Homo sapiens: one gene and its partners. The protein of the gene in region 3 purifies or fractionates together with the protein of the main gene of each other region. This does not show direct contact. Each region holds a gene or a part of one and is shown on either strand. Other genes may lie near its edges.

Region 1 (7,547 bases), on a different chromosome or scaffold from region 3:
GACCAGGATTTGAACCAGGACTGTTTATTTCTAAGTGCTTTGCTCACCCGTCCTGTTTCCTCCCTAAGCCCAGAGTGAGACTTACCATCTAGGTTTGGGGCTGCATCAGATGCCTTGTCATAGATCACACCATGGGGTAAAATGCTATAGACCTTGTCGGCTTTGTTGGCAAAGGTCACTAACAGGGTATCACCCACCTCTGCCTTGATGACTGGGCCTGAAAAAATATCCAGAAGAAGAGAGAGAAGAGAATGAAAAGAGACAGAAAGAAGTAAAGCAGAAGAGTCATTCTGTGCAGATGTACATGCCCAGCTAAAACATCTCCCTGGGTTCAATGCATGGGGGATGGTTTTACTGTACCAAGAATTCCAAGATGGGCTTCTTCAGCAGAGAGTCTCTTTCTTTTAGTAAAAGTTGCATCAACAAATTCAGTATACCGAACCTTCCAGTATTTTCCTCCTATTCTGTTGTCCCCTTGTGTGAAGTAGAGATCAGAGTCACTGAAAAGACATAGGAATGTGATTGAGGACACTTCTCAACATATCCACCAAATACTTTAATTATAGAACTTCATTCTATCACTTTTAGTCCACTCGCCCACCCATGTCCCCAGAAAAGACAGCACAGGCCTTGACAGAGTTCCCAGGAATAGTTAACCAGCCCTAAAAGTCTTCAGAGGCTGGGTGATACTCAAGCTCATTTCTCTCAGCCATTGTACTTTCTTCCCAAGAGGTCCAGCACTGAACCAGTCACAAGTAAACTCCTTATTTACCAATAGTAGAGTTCCAGAATGGTGTTCTACAAAGTAACAAAGAGCTAACTGGTTTCTCTGCAGAATAAGCATCCCTCTCTCTCTTGCTGATATTAATATGAATATTCTCTGCATCTAGTAAGCTCTTTGATTTCTGGCATTATTAAGGAATGGAGTGTCTAGTTAATCAAATAGTGTAATTATTGGAGGGCTACCATATAAACCATATGCATGAAATGCAAAATTTCCAAGTCGTGAATATGATAATATAAATTCTGACTAATACTGTCTCTATACTATCTTATTTCCATCAATGGTGCCATCACTCTTGCAGCCACGTAGATTTTCTTTTTCTGCTTCATTCCCTTAACTCATTCATCCTTACTTTGTAAAATTTTTTGGCACTCTTCCTTTTCTATCCTCCTTGTGCATCTTTTCTTTTCCTTTCTTCCCACTACCACGACCCCAGTTCATGCCCTAATCACACTGGGTGGAGCCCATTATATGAACCTCTGAACTGCATCCTCTATCTGATACTGGCTCATTCACTTTTCTTCTCAGCATAGACACACAACTATTAGATTGGTGCAAAAGTAAGCCATAATGGTCATAATGGCCAAGACCGTGATTACAAATTACTTTCAATGGCCAAGACTGTGCTTATTTTTTCACTTAATACATTAATCTCCAAAATGGCAATTGTTATTGCTATTTACCTGCTCCAAAATCTTCAATTGCTTCCAATTGCCAATCAAATAATGTTCAAAAAGATTAAAGGACCTCTGCAATTGATATCCCGTTTACCCCAATTCTCTATTTCTCCATGCCAGTGCCCATTCTTCTATGCAAATTGTTACTGCAGTCTCATCTGTTCATTCCTCCCATGCCACAGGTGCTTTGCATCAACCCCTCCATCTAAAATTCCTCTCTTCCCTATTCAGTTAAATAAATTCTATCACTCCTTAAGATTTTGCTTAAGTCTCACTTCCTCTATAATGTGTTCCCTGGCCAGCTTAGCTCTCTCTGAGCATCCAGATAACTCACTACCAGGACAACTCACCTCACTTTTATTTGTAACTTGCAGTTACTTCTCTACTCTTGTGAACCCAGCTTCTTCCTCTGCATTTTATTGCTTTAGATATCCTTGCATCCCTCATGTCATCTTGCACTTTGTGCTTTCATATATCACATTAAACATTGATTGAATATAGTTTAATCTTTCCTATTTCAGAAGGCACTTCAGAATTCTAGAAGGCTCCTAAGACAATTTTGAATGCTAATTCTCATTATTCTGTTTATGGAGAAATACTAGTCAATAGAGAATGTTGATATCAGAGTCTTTCACATATGGTTCACACAAATTCTTTAGACAGGGTTCAAGTGCATCCGTTTGGTAGAATAATGAGTGAAAGTATGAATGAATGAATGAATGAATGAATAAAATGTACAATTAAAGAAACAAATGATGTTTTATTGATCACAAAGAGAATTTTTAAAACATTCCCTTAAATATAAAAAAGGATTCTTGATATCACACTGTACATTTTTTAGTATCTTCACAGACAACTTTGCATATGATTATATACTAACAAGTCACAGGAGTCCAGATCCACCTAATAAATTGCTAGATTAATTTTTTAAATAGTATATTCTATGGGAGCGCAGAGAGAACATAATTCATTTATATCAAGAGTCAAAGGTTTCACTTCAGAGGTGACATTAGAGTAAGGCTTTGAAAGAAAAATGGCATTTTACTGAATAGAAAGGAAAAGAATATTTGTAGGACATAAAGGGGACACAACTTAAATCAGGATATCCTTGAACCAAAAAGGGTAACCCTCTTAGGCCAGGTCATCTCCATCTCCTGTCATTCCCTCTTCAAGACTGTCTGCTCCATATGTGTAAAGGCCTTACTCTATTCTTTGTCAGCTTAGTATTTCTAATGGCACTTTGCACTATAGTTTGCACATAGTGCCTACTCAAGAAATGTTTGATCAATGAGTGAATGATCTAGTGTTTTGATTCAGCCGTCAAGTCACAAAACAAAAAATATTCTACCAGTTCTCAGCAGTGCTTTTGCAGTATTAAGAACACCTTAAGCAGCTACATTATGCCATCTATGCAGTATAAGCTCATCAGAGCAGTGGTTGGAATACAAATTAGATCACAGAGAAAGCCTAACACATGCTTCTCTGACGAGAGGCTTAGAAACACCAACAAAGGGTGCTTACCTGCCAGAGGCGTTTAGAGGAAGACCACTGAATTTGTTATAGCCTTGAGGAGCATAATCCCAAAGAATTTTTTCAGCTGCTATAAAGTAGCGCCTCTGTTGACCCTTCATCTTGGGGTAGAAAATATCACTTTTGCAGTTATCAACATTGTATTGCCCCAGCATACCAGCTGCAGAACAGAGGAAAACCACGAGCTGAGGCATAAATGATCACAAAAGGAATCATATAGGAAAAGACTGATAGATTTGGCTCTTGAACATTTAGGCTTCTGTACAGAAAATTGGACCATAAAGAAAGTTTTTTTAAAAAGGATAAATGGCAACAGGAGGGATATTTGTGACACATATGACAAAAGATTAATACGTAAATCACTTTTACAGATAAAGATGAAAACAAGTAAATCTCCAATAGAAAATGAGCAAGGAACAGAAATAGTTTATTCACAAAATAAATAATATTGGCCAATAAACAAATGAAAAAGAGGTTCAACCTTAACAGTACTCAAATAGTACTCAAACCTTAACAGTTTTCAAATGATACTATTGTTCATTGATCAGATTAGTAAAGATTAGAAAGACTAATAATTCTCAGTGTTGGTAGATGAATGGGGAAAGAGCCATACTCATACACTTCGTGTAGAAGAATAACAATTTCCAAAAGAGAATGTGGCAATGTATGTCCATAGCTTTTTTAAAAAAATCATACTCTTTGACCCAGAAATTCTAAATCTAGGAGTTTTTCTAAGAAAATGTTCAGACAAAAGTGCAAACATCTATAAATAATAGTCATCAGTGCTGTTTATAATAGCAAAAAAATTGGTGGGAAACATAAGCATTAAGCAATAGAGTATTGATTAAGCAAGATGTAATCTCCTTATAATGGACACTGGAAGTATTAACCATGATGAAGTAAGCTCTATATTCACCGACATGAAAATGTGTTTCTGATATATTTGTAAATGAGAAAAATTAGCTACAGTGCAGCATTAATAGACTGATTTCATTTTTTAAAATACATATATATTTACATATTAAGAAATAGAAAATAGGGAAGATATTCACCAAAATGTGAATATAAAATATTTCTATTATGGAACTACTGATTTTAAAACCAATTTATAGGGGCCAGATCCAGTGGCTCATGCCTATAATCCCAGCACTTTGAAAGGCTAAGGTGGGAGGATTGCTTGGGCCCAGGAGTTTGAGACCAGCCTGGGCAACATAGCAAGACCCTGTCTCTATTTGTTAAAAAACCTCCAATTATATGTATTTTCTAATTTTTTTACAATAACTTTTTTCTGAAGGCATGGACAATTTAGAAATACTGTATTTCAGGGAACGTATAAATACTAGCTTATGTCCACAACTATCGGGCTAATTTAGCGATCTTACTAGTCTCAAATGGCAGCTAATATCTTGATTTTAAATCTACAGTTTCTTCCCAGATTTAACAGCATAAGACTCTTTGAGAATAGAAACCTTCTCTTGTTAATCTTTGTTTTCCCAGAAGAGCATCTAGTACATATTAACTGATTAATTTTTCAGTTGAATGTAATTGGGATACTGCAGTTGACTAATGCTATGACTCACTGTGGAAGGTGGACAGGAACAAGAATGTGTTACAAAAGCAGCCCTGAGCAGCTGGATCTTTGCACCTATTAGTGACTATGGGAAGTTAGTATCCAAATATCAGACATTATTTCTTCTGTGTCTATTCCATTAACATATTTTTTCTGTCTTGGTTTCATCATCTTAGGGCAGACGTTTAGGTGTTAGACCTCTAACACTGTCAAATGCTTCTTAACTAGCATCCAGTGGTCAGAATTCCTCCATCAAGTCCTTCTTGCATGCATACATTTATCTTCTTAAATAACTGCACCGATTATGTCACTAGTGTGCCAAAAGAGCTAAGGATCACACAGCCCCACCTCCTTAGCTTTGCTAAGGGGCCTGATGAGCCTCCCAGGCTCTTCTGTCATCACTTCTCTGTAAGGAACATTATGGTCCAGCTAAGAAAGGACATAGTGTATGATGTCTGAAGAAACCAGGACCAGGTCATTCAACAGGCATTTAAGCCAACAAATGTTTATCATGCACCTATCATAGGACATGAAGGAAGCTATAGGTCAATGGATTTTGTCTCAATTTGAGGAAGAACATTCCAATAGAGCAGTCCAGAGATGAGATGAGCTGCTATAACTACTCACAAGAGATGTTCAAAACGAAATTAAATAATTCGAGGGGGGATTGGTCCTTATTATCCAGAAAGTCCTTTCCAGTGCTAAAACCTTATTACTCTACTTACAGTTGCTCAAAAAGAACATGTGTTTTTCCCAGTTCATGCTGCTTCCTCAAAAGTCTTTCTTTCCTTCTTCATCTATTCAGTTCCTACTCATATTTCAAGGCTCATGTTAGGAGCCAGCTCCTCAGGAAGCCCCTCTGATTGCTCCAGAGTAGTGACTGCAACACCCAAAGAGCATTTATCTCATTCTGCCTTAAATCGTATTCATTTTGTGAATGTCTAACTATGTCTAACAACTATACTACAGGTTCCTCGAAGGTCTCATCAATTTTTAATCACTTCCCCACTTTTTTCATACAGAAGTGGTCAATAAATATCTGTTGATAGAATATCAAAGAGATGAGCGTTATATTTTCCTGTATATTTATTACCTAATTAAATATAGTACATACAAGGCTCTATCTAACAGTAGGTACTGGATGAGCACTAGTGACTGTGTGGTTTGATTGTACCATTCTAAACATATCAACTCTGGTCTTTATCCTTTTTACCTTGTAGGTGGTCGCTGACCTGGCAGGTTATCATCCACTTCCCAGGATTCTCGGCTATCATTTCTGTTGTAAGGAAGGTGGCTGGGAACAGGTTGACGACATCAGTCCGATGCCCTCTGCTGATGAAGGTGTTACCATAGAAATAGATAGAATGGATGTCTATTTCATTCCCCATTCCAAATAGGTGCCAGGACACAGATTCTCCAACACACATATCAGGCTCCGGGAAGTTTCCGAAGAGGTATCCATTGAGGGCTGGAAACAGAAACACGCTAGTGGAAGAGACTCCCCTGCAGAGGCGACTGGGACCAGAAATGTTGGTAATACGGGCTTAAGCATGGCTGGAAAACCAGTGCAGACCATTGGTTGTAAGGTTTTGGTGCAGAAAAACCTGGCTCTTAGAAATATATATTGTCCAAAAGAGAAATGAAATGTTTTTATTGGCCTTTTTCCAGAGAAAACACTCAATAAAAGTGAAGATCAGCATACACTGAGAACAGCCTCGGAGCTGCTGTGGGAACGCAATATGAGGTCAGGAGAAAACAGAGTGCTGCTCATATTTACAGGAGGCTCAGTCACCTTCTGTCATAATCCTTCACTGGCATATCTGCTGTCTTCACCAGATTCTGTGCTCCTTGGAACTAGAAACCCTGTCTTGTTCATCTTAACAGTTATCAGGACCTAGCAGAAAAACTGGCACATAGTATCTACTTAATGAAGTGACAAAAGCATGTAGTAAGATGGAAAGAAAAGGAATTGATTAAAAGGAATTTATGAGAACTGTTTTGTTTGTTTGTTTGTTTACTTTAAAAAGCCAAGAGAAAAACAGTTTTTACTACATGTTGCTGGAGCAGAATCTTATTAAGTTTATGGCGTAAATCCAGGACCGAATACTTTAAAACCATCTAAATGGCAGCTGGGAGTTGACCAAGTTCAGAAAAGAACTTGATTCAGGGCTTTAAAAAGTCACAATATCCCTTCTTAAGTTCGAACTGAGTTAAAAGCAATTGTTGCTGAAATGCCTGATGACTTAGGCAGCACAATTAATTCTAAATTATTTTAGTAAATTTAAATAAATTGATCAATAAAACTTGTACATATTAATTATCTTCCATAGTCTAGATTTTTTTAATTAAATTTTTTCCTTTACTTGATTAGGTCTCTTTTTCCAGTCTCTCTCTCTTTTTTTTCTTTTGAGATGGAGTCTCGCTCTGTCACACCCAGGCTGAAGTGCAGTGGCACAATCTCAGCTCACTGCAACCTCTGTCTCCTGGGTTCAAAAGATTCTTGTGCCTCAGCCTCCCCAGTAGCTGAGATTACAGGTGCCCACCACCATGACCAGCTAATTTTTGTATTTTTAGTAGAGACAGGTTTTGCCATGTTGGCCAGGCTGGTCTTGAACTCCTGGCCTCAAGTGATCCTCCCACCTTGGCCTCCCAAAGTGCTGGGATTACAGGCGTGTGCCACAATACCCCACCCTTTTCCAGTCTTGAAGGATTGTTTGCAAACACACATCTACTTCAGCATACAGGCTAGGGTTTTTTGTTTTTGTTTTTTGAGACAGGGTCTTGCTCTGTCACCCAGGCTGGGGTGCAGTGGCACTTAGTTCACTGCAGCCTCAAACTCCCGGGCTAATGCAATCCTCTGACCTCAGCATCACAAGTAGGTGGGACCACAGGCATGTGCCACTATGCCCAGCTGATTTTTTTTGTTGTTTGTTTGAATTTTTTGTAGATAACGGATCTACCTATGTTGCCCAGGCTGGTTTTGAAC
Region 2 (7,547 bases), on a different chromosome or scaffold from region 3:
AACATGGCACATGTATATACATGTAACAAACCTGCACATTGTGCACATGTACCCTAAAACTTAATGTATAATTAAAAAAAAGAAAAATAAATTATTGAAATAAAAAAAGAAGAAGAAGAAGAAAATAATTGATGTTTATTGGAGGGCGTTTTAAGAACGAAAGGTAAAATCCAAGACAGCTGGATAATGGCTGAAAGATCAAAGCATAAAATGGAAAGAAAAAAAACAGAGAGAGTAATGCACCAAAGAAGAAGAAGGACAGGAATTATAATTCAGTTAATAAAGTGGTGGCTAAAACATAATGGCAACCAAAGGAGCAAGCTGGAGACTGGATGGTCCCCTGGAAAGTCAGCAAATCACTGAGGCCCATGTGGATATATAGCAAGTGATCCAGGCCTTCAAAGAGCCCCTTCTTCCTTCCTGGCCAAGGGTTGAGGCCAGGCGGGGTGGAGCTAGAATGGAAGCCAGGGAGGGACTAAAGGGAGAACAGGCCTCAGCCAGCTAAGCAGAGGTGAGGGAGCAGAGAGGAAGCTAAAACTCCATTCACCTGCAGAGAAAACTGCTACTCTTATTTAAACTTTGTGCCTTAAAAATCTATATAAATAAAATAATATAATAACCCTTATCATATAAAATAAAATACTTATATATAATGTGTACTATAAAATAGTATCTGCATAATTCAAAATTTTGAAGCATATATGTGTACGTATTAAAATCTCATAAATGTACAACACAAAGAGTGAACCGTAACGTAAATTGTGAAGGCCAGGTGTGGTGGCTCATGCCTATAATCCTAGCACTTCAGGAGGCTGAGGCTGAGGATTGCTTGAGGCCAGGATTTCAAGACCAGCCTGGACAACACAGTGAGATCCCACCTTTACAAAAAAAAAAAAAGCCAGGCATAGTGCTGTGTGCCTTTAGTCCCAGCTACTTGGGAGGCTGAGGCAGGAGGATCACTTGAGCCCAGGAGTTTGAGGTTAGAGTGAGCTACCATCATGCCACTGCACTCCAGCCTGCCCAGGAGTTTGAGGTTAGAGTGAGCTACCATCATGCCACTGCACTCCAGCCTGGGCAATGGAGCAAGACCCTGTCTCTAAAACAATAATAATAATAATAATAATAATAATAGTAATATGTCAGTATTGGCTCATCAATTGTAACAAACATACCAAACTAATGCAAGATGCTAATAACAGGTGAAACTGTAGGCCTGGGACGGGAAGGGGAGTATATGGGAACTCCTTGTACTTTCTGCTTATTTTTCTGTAGGCATAGATCTACTCTAAAAATAACATCTACTAATTTTAAAAAAAAAGAAAGAGCAAGAGAGAGGATGCTTGACATCAGGTCACATGATAGTGGACCTGGCAGTGCGTAGCAACGTAGTGCCTTAACTGCCTAGGAGGTGAGGGAGACACTCTAGCCTTCAGTTAAGAACCTGGCTCCAACTACCTGGGCCCAAATCCTGATCCTGCACACACCCTTGACTAATTATGTAACCAGTTACCCACCCCTCTGTGCCTCAGCTCCCTCACTGGTAAACAAGAGTGTGGTAACAGTCTCTAACTCATCAGCCTGCTGTAAGAATTAAATGAGATAATGCACGTAGGCAACTTAGCACAGTCCCTAGAACACTGTAAGTGCCAAATAAATTTTGGCTGTTGTTAATATTAAGGAGGAAAGGCCCCAGAAAGAACCATGGGTCCTTGGAGGTGACTGAGCCAGTGGCAATAAGGGAGGGCTACCGGCCCAGCTCTCACGGCCCACACAGACCTGTTGGCACAACTCTTTGCCAAGGCAGGGGGTGCCTTTGTGGAGAGCACCTGCCTTCTCCTTACCTTCTCCAAGCCTGTGGACTCATCCTCCACATCCTTGGGTAGTAGGATGAACATGCTGAGATGCTTATTTTGAAAAGGAAGCTCTATGATCTTACAATTGATACTGTCAATGTTTCCCATACAGAACGTGGCCTCCATGTTCATCATCTGCACTGGTTTGGTGTCTGTCTGTAAAAGGGAAAATTTGGACTGCTTACTTTTCAATTTACACATGCATAAATATATATATATATATATATACACACACGCGCGCACACACACACACATATATACCCACATGTATATATACAGACACACATACATATATACCTACACCTATATATATACAGATACACATACATATATACATACACCTATATATACACATATACATATATATGCATACATACATATACATACATATACATATACACACACCTATATATACACACTTATATATACATACTATATATATATACCCCATACATATATACACACATGCACATATATACACATATATAGGCAAACACATAAATATATATGTACATATATATATATACACAAATTTGCTCTTGACACAGTGTCAGATTATTATGGCTTATAATTCATCATCCACTCAGATCCAAACTGTATTGCACTGAAACCAGAGACTGTCCTGTGAAGAGTTTGTGTTCCTTTGAAAAGTTATTCATATACTTTATAATCTACATGTTACACATTACATGAAGTATATATAATACTGTATTTGCATAGATCAAACCTTAAAAATAAGACTGTATGGCTGTAAATATAGGCAACGTTTGTTATTCTTTACAGATGCCTATGAGATCTTTAAACTATTCCTGGTGGAGCTGACTTGAAAGTAAATTCTACTGCAAACCCACATAACCATTTATACGGCTTTTCCTAATAAAATGCCTAATTTCAAAAACTGGCTGGGCACGGTGCCTCATGCCTGTAATCCTGCACCTTGGGAGACCACTTGAGGTCAGGAGTTCAAGACCAGCCTGGCCAACATGGTGAAACCTTGTCTCTACTAAAAAATACAAAAGTCAGCCAGGCATGGTGGCACACGCCTGTAATCTCAGCTTCTTGGGAAACTGAGGGAGGAGAATTGCTTGAGCCTGGGAGCCAGAAGTTGGTGTGAGCCAAGATCATACCACTGCACTCACTCCAGCCTGGGCAACAGAGCGAGACTCCATCTCAAAACAAAACAGAACAATAACAACAACAAACTTAGCACATAGCAGAACAAAACAATATTTGTTGTGACCTCTCTGTTTGTCTTTGGTTTGAATTGCCCACTCCCCACTGTACTGCCACCTACTCAGATCTGAGCTAATTAACAAAGTCTAAATTGAAGATAAGAACCTTGGTTTTTAGTCCCAAATGTGACATAAACAGATTCTGTGGCCTTGAGCAAATCACTCAATCTCTCCAGGCCTCAGTATTCTTGTCAGTAGAATGAAGAAATTGTAAATTCAGAATAATGGTTACCACTGGGGAGGAAGAAAGAGGAACAGGACAGTGGAGTGAGCAGTGAAGGGATACATACAAAGCAATGCAACTGTTGTTATATTTTTTCTTTAAAATATCTGAAATAATTAAGGCAAAATATTAAGTTCAAAAAGATGATTGATCGGTATATGGGTGTTCGTTTTATTATTCTCTATCATTTTCTGAATGCTTGGAGTATTGCATAATTTTTAAAAAGGAAAATGTTCTTTAAAATTATCTCTAAGTCTTTTTAAAATTATCTCTAAGTCCCTTTGAGCTCCACTGTATGCTTGGCTCTTTTTTTTTTTTTTTCAGAAACGTTGTGTTCAATGGTAAAGCTTAGCACAGCCCAGCACCAAGAATGGTGTGCAGCCGCAGCAGCAGGGACAGGCAGGTGACCCCCACAGAGCTTCACATGGCGAAGAGGATAAGGAAGGCGACCATCAAACAGAAGAGCCCCATGGCCTCAGACAGGGCAAAGCCCAGAATCGCATAGGAGAAGAGCTGCTGCTTGAGAGATGGGTTCCTGGAATAACCAATGATCAAGCTGCCAAACGCTATTCCAATGCTAGCCCCTGAACCAACCACACCAACTGTGTCTGCCTCAGCACCAATAAACTTGGCTGCGGTGTCAATGTCCCAGGAGACAACCTGGTCTAGAACTCCTGTCTGGCCACACCTAAAGTGGGGAGCTGCTGTAGGAAGGCTGTTTAGATGAATGCTCTGGGCTATTCAAGAAGGAGGCAGACACAGGCCGGATTAGACCCCTAGTACAACAGCGGATCAGAGCTGGAGAAATAAGTAATGCCCCGGTGGGCTGCATTTTCTCAGTCTCCCAACTTTAGCCCTTGGTCTCTCCCTGCTCTTCTTAAAGGGAGCCCATGGAAGGGTCTGATCGTTCAGGTCTTTTATGTCCAAGCACTGCCCAGGCCTTTTCTTCTCTTTGCTCCTATTAACACCTGGCCTCCTGTCTCTGCTCCAGAGATGACTGATTTCCTGAAGGAAAATTAATTCACGCTAAGTTGTAAAAGACTGACAGTAATGTTGTATAACCTATTGACATATACCTCCCATGGGATATTTGCCTGTTAACTAAATCTCTTTGGGGAGAAATTTCAAACTTCATATCAAGCCTGCAAGGATAATACTCCAGTAAACTTGCATCTGGTATCTTCAAATACTAAGCTGAACCTTCCCCAATACCTCTCTCCAGCAGAGCTAAACGTTATTTATTTTACTTTTGTATATACCTCTATTTTAACACTTGCCACAGTGTTAGAAATATTATCTAGTGATTGTCTTTCCACTTCCCACCCCAACTAGAATACAGTCAAGGCAGAAACTAAGTCTCATTTTCTACCCCAGCTTGTAGTTTCTCACTGAATATTTGGCTGATAAATAATGGAAGACTTCAACTCTATGTGTAACCAAAAACAGAATTATAGGAAAACATACTACTTTGGAGGTTAACAGATAATTCTTCCCTTTATTTCTCCTAAAGAGGATATTGTCTTAAAATATATTCCTCCTAAAGAAATTTGTCTAAAAATCTCCAACAGGTTAGACTGCTCATAGTTTCTGAATGTGCACATAGTTGTGGCCTCCAAAAACTGTCATCAATTTCACTTATCGGCACTGACTACAGGTACTTTATTTTCTGAAACACATGTTGAGACGACATATCTTCTGAAAAGAGGACCAAATAAAGACTATCTACCCCAGAAAATATAATACAACATATATACTAATATAGATATATATGGATAGATATCTTTATCAGAATAAGTACTATACTAAACTTTTAATGATATAACTTCACCAATTTAGTCTAACCCTTACCGGAGACACCACGGGGCATAAGAAAAGGTTTAGTAATGTCACTCAAAAAGTTCTAGGGTGGACAAAGCAATTCAAAGAAAACAAAGGAGAAGTAATAGCATCTGCATTCAAAAGAAGGGTGTAGCCTCATGCAGCTGTGAATAGCATTTTATTGCTTTATCAAGTGAAACACTGAGAGATCAATGACATTTCAAACTTTTATTAATTCTGTTCATAAAGGCTGAGTTTCCAGGATCTTATATAACCCAGCTTTATGATTTAATAGCAAGAATAAAGGAATAGCACACATTCTTCCTCCCTTCTCAAAAAACACACGTTAATACTTTCTTAATGAAAAAAGTACGACCCTTAGTGTGGTTGACACAAAAGTCCACATTCTACTCATTGACTATTGCAACATTTTCATGGTGTTCCTTCCAGGCTGGCTCTGGGGTCTTGAAGAGAGGCACCATTGGCAACCTGTTTCAGATTTCACTTAAACAGAGTTAGGAACCCTTTGCCAGCCCTTGCTATGGAGGAGAGCCAATCACTAATCAAAGGAGCCAGAAGGGTCACTCTATGACAGCAAAGGCTGTGTGGATGCCGTCAGGGCCAGTGGGGCCAACACCCCTCCCTAACTCACAGTAGAGGCTGGGTAAAGTCACGTTCCACTTCCACTCCAGATAAAAGACAATACTGAGAAGGTCAAAAAGCCATGCTTAAAACTCAAGGACCTGTGTGTGCAAAACACAAGAGTGTGAAGAGCATAAGCTATGTCTCTAGAATCTCAGACAGACCTCTTGTGTGCAGGGTCAATCCTGTCTCTGCAGTCAGCTTTGAGAAGACCACTGCAGTTGGGAAGCTAAACTCAGGAAGTTAGGAGGACCTCCTACCCATCCCTCAGCTCCCATGGATATTTTGAGTTGGTAAGGAGCAGTAACAGTCATCATTGTCTTCTCCCAGTGAAAATGCCCAATGGGTCTTGCATAGGAAACCATGGTAGTCCCAAAGGCCAGTCAGGTTTTGTCTGCTATTGATTGTTTAAGCAAACTGACCCTTAGGGACTGATCATTCATTCAGCAAATTTGCTGAGCACCTACTGATGTGTTAGGGACTTGGCCAGAAATTGTAGACACTGAGGTGAATAAGGCATTGTCCCTACCTTAAAAATCCCATGCGCTAGTAGGGGATCTATGTAAGTAAACAGATTTCACTGTGGAAAAGCAAATTCTGGCAGTGGACAGGGGAGAGTATGAATAAAAATTCCATGGGAACAAAGAAAGAAAGAGTAATGGAAGCCATCCGGCTAACCCAGGCATAGATTGTATCTTGCAGGGCTTTTCCTCATGGATGCTAGCATTAAGAAGGTGCTACTATATTTGGCAAAAACAAGATATTGATGCTAAGTACTCTAACTACTGGGAGAAGCATGAAAACTAGAACTGACGCGTAGGAGCTACAGGTAACTAAGCTACCTTCAAGTATTGTACTAACTGAAGTGCTGCTTCCAGTCTAACACAAGTCAGATCCCACCCACGGAGACCACATCACATCATCATATAGATGTCTGGGTTTTCCAATAAAATGGGTCAAATTTCCAGTCTCAGTTCCTTGATCTCATTTACAAAAGAGGTACTTTACCCATTTCTTTTTTTTTTTTTTTTTTTTTTTTGAGATGGAGTCTCACTTTGTCACCCAGGCTGGAGTGCAGTGGCACAATCTCAGCTCACTGCAACCTCTGCCTCCTGGGTTCAAGCCATTCTCCTGTCTCAGCCTCCTGAGCAGCTGGGATTACAGGCACATGCCACCATGCCCAGCTAATTTTTGTATTTTTAGTAGAGATGGGGTTTTACTATGTTGGTCAGGCTGGTCTCAAACTCCTGACCTCGTGATCTGCCTGCCTCGACTTCCCAAGGTGCTGGGATTACAGGCATGAGCCACTGTGCCCACCCTCTATTAATTATTTAACATATTTACTTCAACAGTATCAATGAGACTGGCCTGCAAAACAGGCCCTTAATTCTTCCCATAATGACTTCCAGTGATGTCAATGAGTAAGCCATACTTTGTTTTTTCACAGCCAACAAGTGCCTGAAAGCATCTGGTCTTGTTGTTTGTTTGTTTGTTTGTTTTTCTTGAGGTGGAGTTTCACTCTTGTTGCCCAAGCTGGAGTGCAGTGGTGCAGTCTCGGCTGACTGCAACCTCTGTCTCCCAGGGTCTGATTCTCCTGCCTCAGCCTCCCATGTAGCTGAGATTACAGGCACCCACAACCATGCCCAGCTAATTTTTGTATTTTTAGTAGAGACAGGGTTTCACCATGTTGGCCAGGCTGGTCTCCAACTCCTGACCTCAGGTGATCTGCCCTCCTCGGCTTCCCAAAGTCATGGGATTACAGGCATGAGCCACCACGCC
Region 3 (8,148 bases):
GGCTCAAGTGATATGCCCACCTTGGCCTCCCAAAGTGCCGGGGGAATACAGGAATGAGCCACTGTGCCCGGCCCCTTAGATTCTTGAGCCCCATGTTCCAGTGAGCTCAGCTCCCACCCCCACATCCCAGGATCAAGCGTTTGATGCCTGGACATGGAGACCTTTTTATATTACCTTATTTCACTCTGAGATGCTGAAGGACCAGCACAGTGAGTAAAGACAAAATGAAAATACCTATGAGTCACACTGTTACAGTCAGCTAAGTCATGTTTTGACTCTTGTTATGCTTAAGGGTGTAACCAAAAATAGTGATGGGTACCATTTATCAAACATCTATTATATCTATTACATGGCAGACGTTGAGCTGGGTGCTTTTAATTCTCACAATAACCCTGTGAGGTAGGTAGGTATTGTTATTTCCACTTCACAAATAAGGAAATTGAGGCTTACAGGATTTAAGTAACTTACTTTAAATTTAAGTTACTTAACTAACTTAAGTAACTTAAGTAACTTAAATTATCCAAGATCACACAGGCAGGATGTTGGGGAGCTAGATTCAAACCTATGTCACTGATTCCAACATCTGTGTTTTTTTGCATGGCACCTACGATGACCATTGCCCTTCACTATTCTTCTGGGGGGCGCCTTATGTCCTACTCAGTTGCATCCAAGTCTTGGCTCTTCTGCTCAACTCTGACTTTGCTGATGGCAGGTGTCTCTTATATGCCTAGCGCAAGCATCTGAGGAATGATTTTATTCCTAGAAGAGTTTGCAGTGAGGCAGGCTTTCTGGACCGGTTTTTCCCCGTGACAGATTTCCAAAAGATTGGTGCCCTGTGGGGAGTCAGAAGCAGCTGGGGACTCAGTAAATATTTGTTGAATGAGTGAATGTGATGTTCATATATTTGGTCATTCAATTCAAGTGGAAGATCAAAATCAGGAGCGCTATAGCCCTGTGCTGTTTTCCCCTGAGTCCAGCACAGTTCTGGATGCACTAGGGTGATATTCTGGGAGAGATTTGTGCTTCATTCCCCTCCTTAGACAACAGGAGCAGCACACTTACACGCCCATCTGGTGGTGCACTGCCCAGGGGAGCGTGGGGGCAGGGATCTCCTGAGATATACTCTCTGGCTGCTTGGCCGGCCAAGGGGGTACTTGGCTCTCTACGGGCAGACTCCATACTCTGGAAAGCAGCCTGGGGCCCTGGAGCAAAGGCAGGCTCATATTCACCGGCTTGAGGGCTGGTCCCAGCTCCATGGCTCACTGGCTGTATGATCTTAGCCAAGTCCCTCCATTTCTCTTAGCCTCAGTTTCATCTTTTGTCGCTGTGGGTGATAGCTGCCTGGCAGCATTATTGGGGGTTAGATGAGGACATGAAGGTCAAGTACTTGGCACACACAGGGCTTCTCTCCCCCACCTTAAGTAAGTTCTGCCCTTCAGTAGGTTCAGAAACCCCCAGAACACTCACCTCTGCAGTCAAATCTACTGATTTCTGCCTCCCCTGTGTCTTCCTCTGCCCAGGCCTGGCCCAGGCTTGGTGGGGATATGGGGGGTGGAGGAGAGAAGAGGCCTAGATTGGCTCCAGAAATACAGACCTGTCAGTCTCATGAGGACTGGGGTCCCCTCAGCACAAAGCCCTGGCCCTTGGTGGGCACAGATTTAACTACGAGTGAGTGAATGAATAAAAGAACAAATGAATGAGAAGGAAGGATCTAACCAAATACCCTGTGAGTCTCATAGCTGAGGGCTGTGGTGCCCAGAATGGGGCGAAGGAGTCCAGAACCCAGAGCTCAGGGTCCCAGATGTGCCTCACAGCCGGGGCCAGCTTACCTTGGGTAGCCGGTATTTGTCTCGGAAGTGGCTCCGCAGTGTGGCCCGCTCTGCCTTCCTCTGTGTGAACTGTGCATCCCGCTCCATCCTGCAGGGTCACCGGAGGCAGAGTCACCACGAGGGCTGAGAGAAGGGGGTTGAGGTCTTCGAGGGAGGGACAGAAGGGGTCTCTGAGTCCTAGCAGCTGCTGCATTGGTCCCTGTGTGTAGCAAAAGCGCTCCAACCCGGACATCCAGGTTTCTGCTGCCTCTGCCCATCACAGTGCCCTTTGTCGTCTCTGCCACTGGATGGAACTAGGGAACCAGGGTGGCAGTCTGTCTGGCTCTCTCTGCAGATCCTAATTATTTGTCCCTCATGGCCTCCAACTTGGTCTGCTGTTCCCTCACTGACAAGCTATGTCATGTGGGGAAAAGTATTCAGGCCAAACTTGGGTTCACATCCCAGCTCCACTACCATTTTAGGTATATCCTTAGGTAAGTCACTTACCTTCCTCTTCTGTAAAATGGGGATAAAATTTTGCAACTCACAAAACTGTTATCAGGATTGAGCGAAATAATAGCTATCATTTATGAGACTTTATCATGTGCCAGGTGCTGTGCTAAACAGTTTACATGCATTGGCATTTAATCTTCATAAATATACAAGGCATGTATTATGATTACCATCCCCACTTTCCAGAAAAGGAAACAGAGGCACAGAAAGGTTAAGTAACTTGCCTAAAGTTATCCAGCTAATAGGCAAAGCCAGGCTCTGAACCCAAGTAGCCTAGCAGCAGAGTCCAGCCCCAAACTCTGTCCCAGCACTGCGGGCACACAAGTGCTCAATGTTTGTGAGTGCCCCCATCTCAGGGTCTGTCTCCGCGACTCTGAGCGGCTGCACCACTTTTTTCAGAGCCTCAAGTTCAGAGGAGCCCCAGTTGGAAGACATAGGCGGCTGGGACCAGATCGGATTAAGGGATTATCGTTTCGTCAGAAACGCACGTGCACCCCCTTCCTCGTCCCAGGCTCCGGTCGGTCCCTCGTCCGGTCGCCCCTCCCCCCACTCCCCCTTGGCCGGAGCATGATGCTGGAGCGGGGTTTTGGGTGTCAGATAGGATGGGTCTGGGGGCAGTGTAGAGGACACCTCCCGGTCTCTTACCGTGTCTAGGAAAGTAGGGGAGAAGGGATTGGGACCTGAGGCTGGCCCGGGGATGGACTGAGCAGCTGTGGGGGTGGGGAGGGGAGGTCGTTGGAGCCAGGAAGGGATCCCACTCACTTCTCTTCCACGAGTTGCTTCTGATACTCCTCGTACTCCTCCCGGCTCATGCCCTGAGCTTCGGCTGCCGACTTGTCCCCATCTCCCTTATCCTCGCCGCCTCCCAGGCTCCCAGTGAGGTTCTTCAGCTGGCCGCCCACCATGGTCTTCACCATGAACGCCATGGTCTTCGCCGGCCGGGGCACCGGGCGCCTGCTACCACGCGCCAGGCACCGGGCACGTCCGCGCCTACTTCAGCACTAGGTTTCGCGGACAGCTCCCGCCGCGGGCCCGCGCCCCACGCTTGGCACCGCCCGCCGCCCGCCCCCGCCCGGGCCCGCCCCCACCTCCCCAAACCCCTCCTCACTGGGGGCGGGGGGCAGCACGGGGCTGAGAAGGCTGGACCACGTGCCCGCTCCCCACTCCCGCCTCCCCCACGTGCCTCCTTCAACGCCGAGCTCCGCTGGGCACTGCTGACAGAGGATTAGGGCCTGCGGTGGTGGGGTCGCTCTCCCGGGAGAGGGGTTGAGCTCATACACTCCCGGAACCCTGTTCCATAGCCTCTTCCAACTTTCTCCTCTCCTGGGCCACTAATAACTAGGATTTCAGCTGGGAGATCCAGGTAGCAGCAAGGGGTAAAAACCCAGCCTTGGGTGCCCCCCATTCTCCCCACCCACCCAAGTCACTGAACCCAGCAGCTGCCCAGAGAGCTTGACGCTGGAAAAGGGAGGGAGACCTGAGGGCGCGAGCGGGAATCCCAGTTATGGTTCCACGAGTTGGCCTCTCAGGGTTGCTCTGTCACGCGCCTCCCCTGCTGCCCCTGGAGCAGCTAGGAGTGGGGAGGGAGAGAGCTGCTCAGTGATGCTGGCTGAGCTGGGCCAGGAGGGACACTGGGAGACACTGCTCTCTGTTATGGGTGAGTTTGAGGACAGAATTATATACAGTCATGGCTCTCTTTCCCTCCATAGTCGAGGGTTCAAAGCCCGTGGGGTATCCGGTCTTTTGGAGGTTAAGCCAGGCCTTGGCCTCCTTGCCTGCTTGGAGCGCACTCCCAGCCAGGTACTCAGAAGGGGTGGAAGCCTTCACAGAGATTAGGGTGAGGCTGGAAAGAAGACCAGCATATCACAGCATGGGGAGAGGGAAATCACCTTTAACGAGGTGGGAGCATGCCGAAAGCTCAGGTGTGCGTGGGAGCTGGGCACCCAGACGGAGAGGATACTGACCAAGCCCCCACCCAAGACACTGCCTGCTTCCCAGTGATGCAAAGCAGGCTCTGAGGTGGGTCAGGCAGGCATGCTGGCAGGGAGAGGCTGCCTCCTCAGAATCCCCAGGGCCCTGGGGGTGTGTGGTGCAGGACCCAGAGGAAGGCTGCCTGTGGACAGACACTCCTGAAGGCTCTTGTTCAGCTCCTGCCTGCTGCCAGAGAGAAGGTTACAGGTTACTTGCGTCTCTCCTTTATGGGCTTTTGAAAAACCAGGACTCTCATGCTTGCCTTGCTACACTCACTGCACCACAACCTCCGCTGTTCTTGGACTTTCTGTGGCTCCTTTGGCCCGCTGCATATGGTCCACGCTTTCCCCCTGGGCATGTAAGGTCTGTCCTAGTGGCTCCAGGCTGATTGCCACCACTGCACTCCTGTGCATGTGCTGAAGCCTGTGAGCATTTCTACCTTGTGCTTTTTAAAGCTTAGCTCATTTTACTCCTCCTCCAGGACCATCCCAGCCCACACGGACTCTTCTTGTCTTGAAATTCCACCAACAAAGATTGTCAGTCTCATTGCTGAGGCCTTTAGCACACCCCACATCTCTAAACGGTGCACGTTCATTCAGCAAACACACACCAAGCAAAACTAGTGACCTCCTCTCACTTTTTCAGATCTCTTTGCCCAATTTCACAAACTCGTCCTGCCCTTTGCTCCAACATTACTGAACTTGCCACTTTTTCTCTAAAATATTATGTTTTTCTCATGCCTCCCTGCCTTTTCTCATGCTGTTCCCTCTGCCTCTATGCCTTTACCTATCTTGTCAGGGTGGAAAACTCCTAGTCACCTTAATGACCATATCAAATGTCCCTTCCAGGTTGATTCCCTAACCAAGGGGGGTCAAGTGTGTTCTCCTGCACTCTCGTAGCCCCTCAGCTTCCTGACATCATGGCATTGACGACACAGGGTCAGTTAGACCTGTGTGAGTGAGCTCCGTGAGAGCAGGACCCAGATGGGGCTGGGGGCCGAGCAGGTGGTCAGTAGTGCTTGGTGAGAGAATGGGCCCTATCCCGCACTGTGCTCTTTGTGATTTGGGGACTCGGCAGGTCCCCTCTGAGCTGAAGTGTCCCCTCTCCTAAATCCAATGGTTATAGCTGAGAACCAAGAGATGCCAGTGCTGTGGGAAATCCTGCTCACGGGGTGGCCCACCTGAAGTGCACGTAGCCGAAGAAGCCTACAGTCTGAATGAGGAGGTAGAACAGGAAGATGCCAGGCTGCAGGCACGAGGAGGCCCTTGGGGGCTGGCCAGGTGGGCGGGGGGCCTTGGCTGCTGCCTTCTGAAAGGGGAAAGTCTAAGGTCCTAGCTTAGCTTCTTACCCAGAAGGAGTGGGGGACCTGGAATCTAGGCCATGTGCATGCTCCGTTTCCTTTCCCCAGGCTTGGGGCGTCCTGGCTCTCATCCAGGGAACTTGGAGAGGGGGCAGTGTACAAAGCTGCCTCCCCCACCCCAGCTCCCATGGCTGCATCTGTGGGAACAGCTGGGAAGGCCTGGGGCCTGGGATCATCAAGGGGCCCAGGGTTCAAGAGAAGAGAAGAGAGAAGTAAAGAGCCAAAGACAGGGTGAGCAGGGTGAGGGCGAGGGAACGAGGATGGGACAGGGCATGGGGAAGCGCTGACTACCACTGGACTCAGTGATCTTGGACACAGCCCACCCTGTTTCCCCTCTGGTCATTGGATATTGGATCGAGGGGTGTCCAGGGCCCTGCTGCTGCTGAGTCTGTGGGACTCTTCAGAGAGGAGAGAGGACAGAGAAAAGATGAGATGTGTGGTGGCACGTATGCACGGACACACAGACACTGACGCAGGCACAGATGTGCTTGCCAGCAGTCCTGGGAGGGGAGGGCAAAGGCAGGAGGGCTTGGGGCTGCTGAAGTGCTGGAAGAAGGGTGGCTGAGCCCAGACGTCAAGGTTGGGGACCCCATGCTGCCCACTACTTTCCCCTCACCGCCGGGCCCCGAAGCTCCTCCTGCAGGAGGCCCAGGATGTGGTCCAGCTCTAAGAAATGATGCTCAATGCCCACAGGCAGGTAGGAGACCTGGGCTTCTGCAGCCATGCGGACAGCTGCATCCCTAACCGGGGGTGGTAACCAAGTAAGATGACTCATTACCTCTTCTGCTTCCACCCAGATGGCCTAATCATTTCCCATCTCCCCAAGGGCAGCACATGGATGGGGAACAGGTACCATCCATGGGGCCCCTTCTTGGGGGCTGGTCTTTTCACCTCCAACCTTCTTCCTAGATCCTGAGACTTTAGCTCAGATAAAGATCTCCCTAAAGCTATCTGTGTCAACCCCAGGCTCCCCGGCTCTGCCTTCCATTCCCAGCCCCTGGGGATTTAACTCCTTTCCTTCTTCTCATCTAGGTGCCTCTCCACCCCCAACCCTAGGCATCTAGCTGTGTGTGTACAGGTGGGGCTTTAGGCTTCAGCCTGGGATGCATGCCTCCTCCACAGCATCCCCAGGACTCCCCCAACCCCCAGGGCTCCAGAGGCCTGGCCTAGAGTGGGATACCGGGAAGTTAATGGGGGCACAAAACCAAGTCAGGGACTGTCTCATCCAACTGGTCTGATCTTGGCTGTGCTCCCTCTCCAAGAGCCCCCAACAAAATGCCCCTCATCCTAGGAGCTGCCATTGAAGGAATGCTCAGATTTCTTAAGCCTCCTGAGGGTGGGAGTGTCTGAGGGGGCCTTCATGATGGGCTTCTCCAGGAGAGAATTGCTTTTTAACTAGGACTTGCAAAACATTAAACTTGATTCAATTAAATTCAAGTCAACTCAACAAACCTAACTCCACCAGTAGCCCTTCCAATTGACAGGCTGTGTGCTGGGCGCTCAGGAAATGATGGAAGGAATGAAGGGCTAATGGAGGAACTTAAGGCGGAGAAACAAGGTGGTGGAGGGGTCCCCACCCAGTCCCTTACCTCATCTCTTGCAGGGCCTGGAGCAGAGTCCACTGTCCATGGAGCAGGGCACCGACCTTGGCAGAGTCCTGCAGAGGGGCAGCCTCTTGTCTAGGGCCCAGGACATAGCCCCTCTCTTCTCAGAGCCCACCTTCCCAGCGGCACTGCAGCCTCTTCCTTCCAGAGGCCTTCCCAGATTACCAGGGCCTCCTTATTTGGACACACTGTGTTTCTCTGACCTCATCCATAAGGGCATCCACATTCCCCCTCCACTCACGCCCCTCTCCCCAGGGGTGGTTGTTTCCTCCCAACAGTGGCCACTTCAGGGTTTTCTCAAAATACTTCTCCCTTCTTATTTATTTATTTGAGATGGAGTCTTGCTCTGCGGCCAGGCTGGAGTGCAGTGGCACAATCTCAGCTCACTGCTACCTCTGCCTCCTGGGTTCAAGCGATTCTTCTGCCTCAGCCTCCCAAGTAGCTGGGACTACAGATGCATGCCACCACGCCCAGCTAATTTTTGTATAATTTTTGTATTTTCAGTAGAGACAGGGTTTCACCATGTTGGCCAGGATGGTCTCGATCTTTTGACCTTGTGATCTGCCCGATGGTGTCAGTCTTTTGACCTCGTGATCTGTCCGCCTTGGCCTCCCAAAGTGCTAGGATTACACGCGTGAGCCACCATGCCAAGCCAAAATACGTCTCCCTTCTAAAAGTGGTTCTGTCCCCTGAAGGAAGCAGAGGCCCAGCCCAGTCCTCTCTGCCCTGGTTCTCCCAGAGCACCAGCCAAGCTGGGGCCAGTGCTGGTCAACACCCAGTGTTTGGGTCCCTACCTTATTGAGTGACATGGAGAGGTGGCCACCCCTCCCTGGGGTGGATGGAATCTGGCAGGAAGCATCCAGGGCCTGGGGATAGGATCAGAGAGGCTTGG

Evidence for each region. The genes of interacting proteins can lie anywhere in the genome.
Region 1: the proteins of CPLX3 (region 3) and HEPHL1 purify together in Homo sapiens (affinity purification with mass spectrometry; 2 studies listed by BioGRID and IntAct, with this or other methods). This does not show direct contact.
Region 2: the proteins of CPLX3 (region 3) and SERPINB5 purify together in Homo sapiens (affinity purification with mass spectrometry; 2 studies listed by BioGRID and IntAct, with this or other methods). This does not show direct contact.

Annotation. Positions count from the first base shown.
Region 1 is NC_000011.10:94,065,978-94,073,524, reverse strand, and holds part of HEPHL1 (ferroxidase HEPHL1 precursor), read right to left. Parts: intron 6,555-7,547; exon of another isoform or gene 6,230-6,554; intron 6,091-6,229; exon of another isoform or gene 6,030-6,090; coding exon 5,775-6,029; intron 3,152-5,774; coding exon 2,983-3,151; intron 501-2,982; coding exon 361-500; intron 218-360; coding exon 86-217; intron 1-85. UniProt on the Homo sapiens protein: Is a copper-binding glycoprotein with ferroxidase activity. It oxidizes Fe(2+) to Fe(3+) without releasing radical oxygen species. May be involved in the regulation of intracellular iron content.
Region 2 is NC_000018.10:63,493,582-63,501,128, reverse strand, and holds part of SERPINB5 (serpin B5), read right to left. Parts: intron 4,188-7,547; exon of another isoform or gene 3,626-4,187; intron 2,010-3,625; coding exon 1,842-2,009; intron 1-1,841. UniProt on the Homo sapiens protein: Tumor suppressor. It blocks the growth, invasion, and metastatic properties of mammary tumors.
Region 3 is NC_000015.10:74,821,803-74,829,950, reverse strand, and holds the start of CPLX3 (complexin-3), read right to left. Parts: upstream 3,325-8,148; 5' UTR 3,248-3,324; coding exon 3,084-3,247; intron 1,918-3,083; coding exon 1,830-1,917; intron 1,820-1,829; exon of another isoform or gene 1,063-1,819; intron 834-1,062; exon of another isoform or gene 250-833; intron 1-249. Other genes in the region: LMAN1L (protein ERGIC-53-like precursor), read right to left, coding at 4,346-4,475, 5,473-5,600, 6,269-6,392, 7,242-7,309, 8,051-8,122.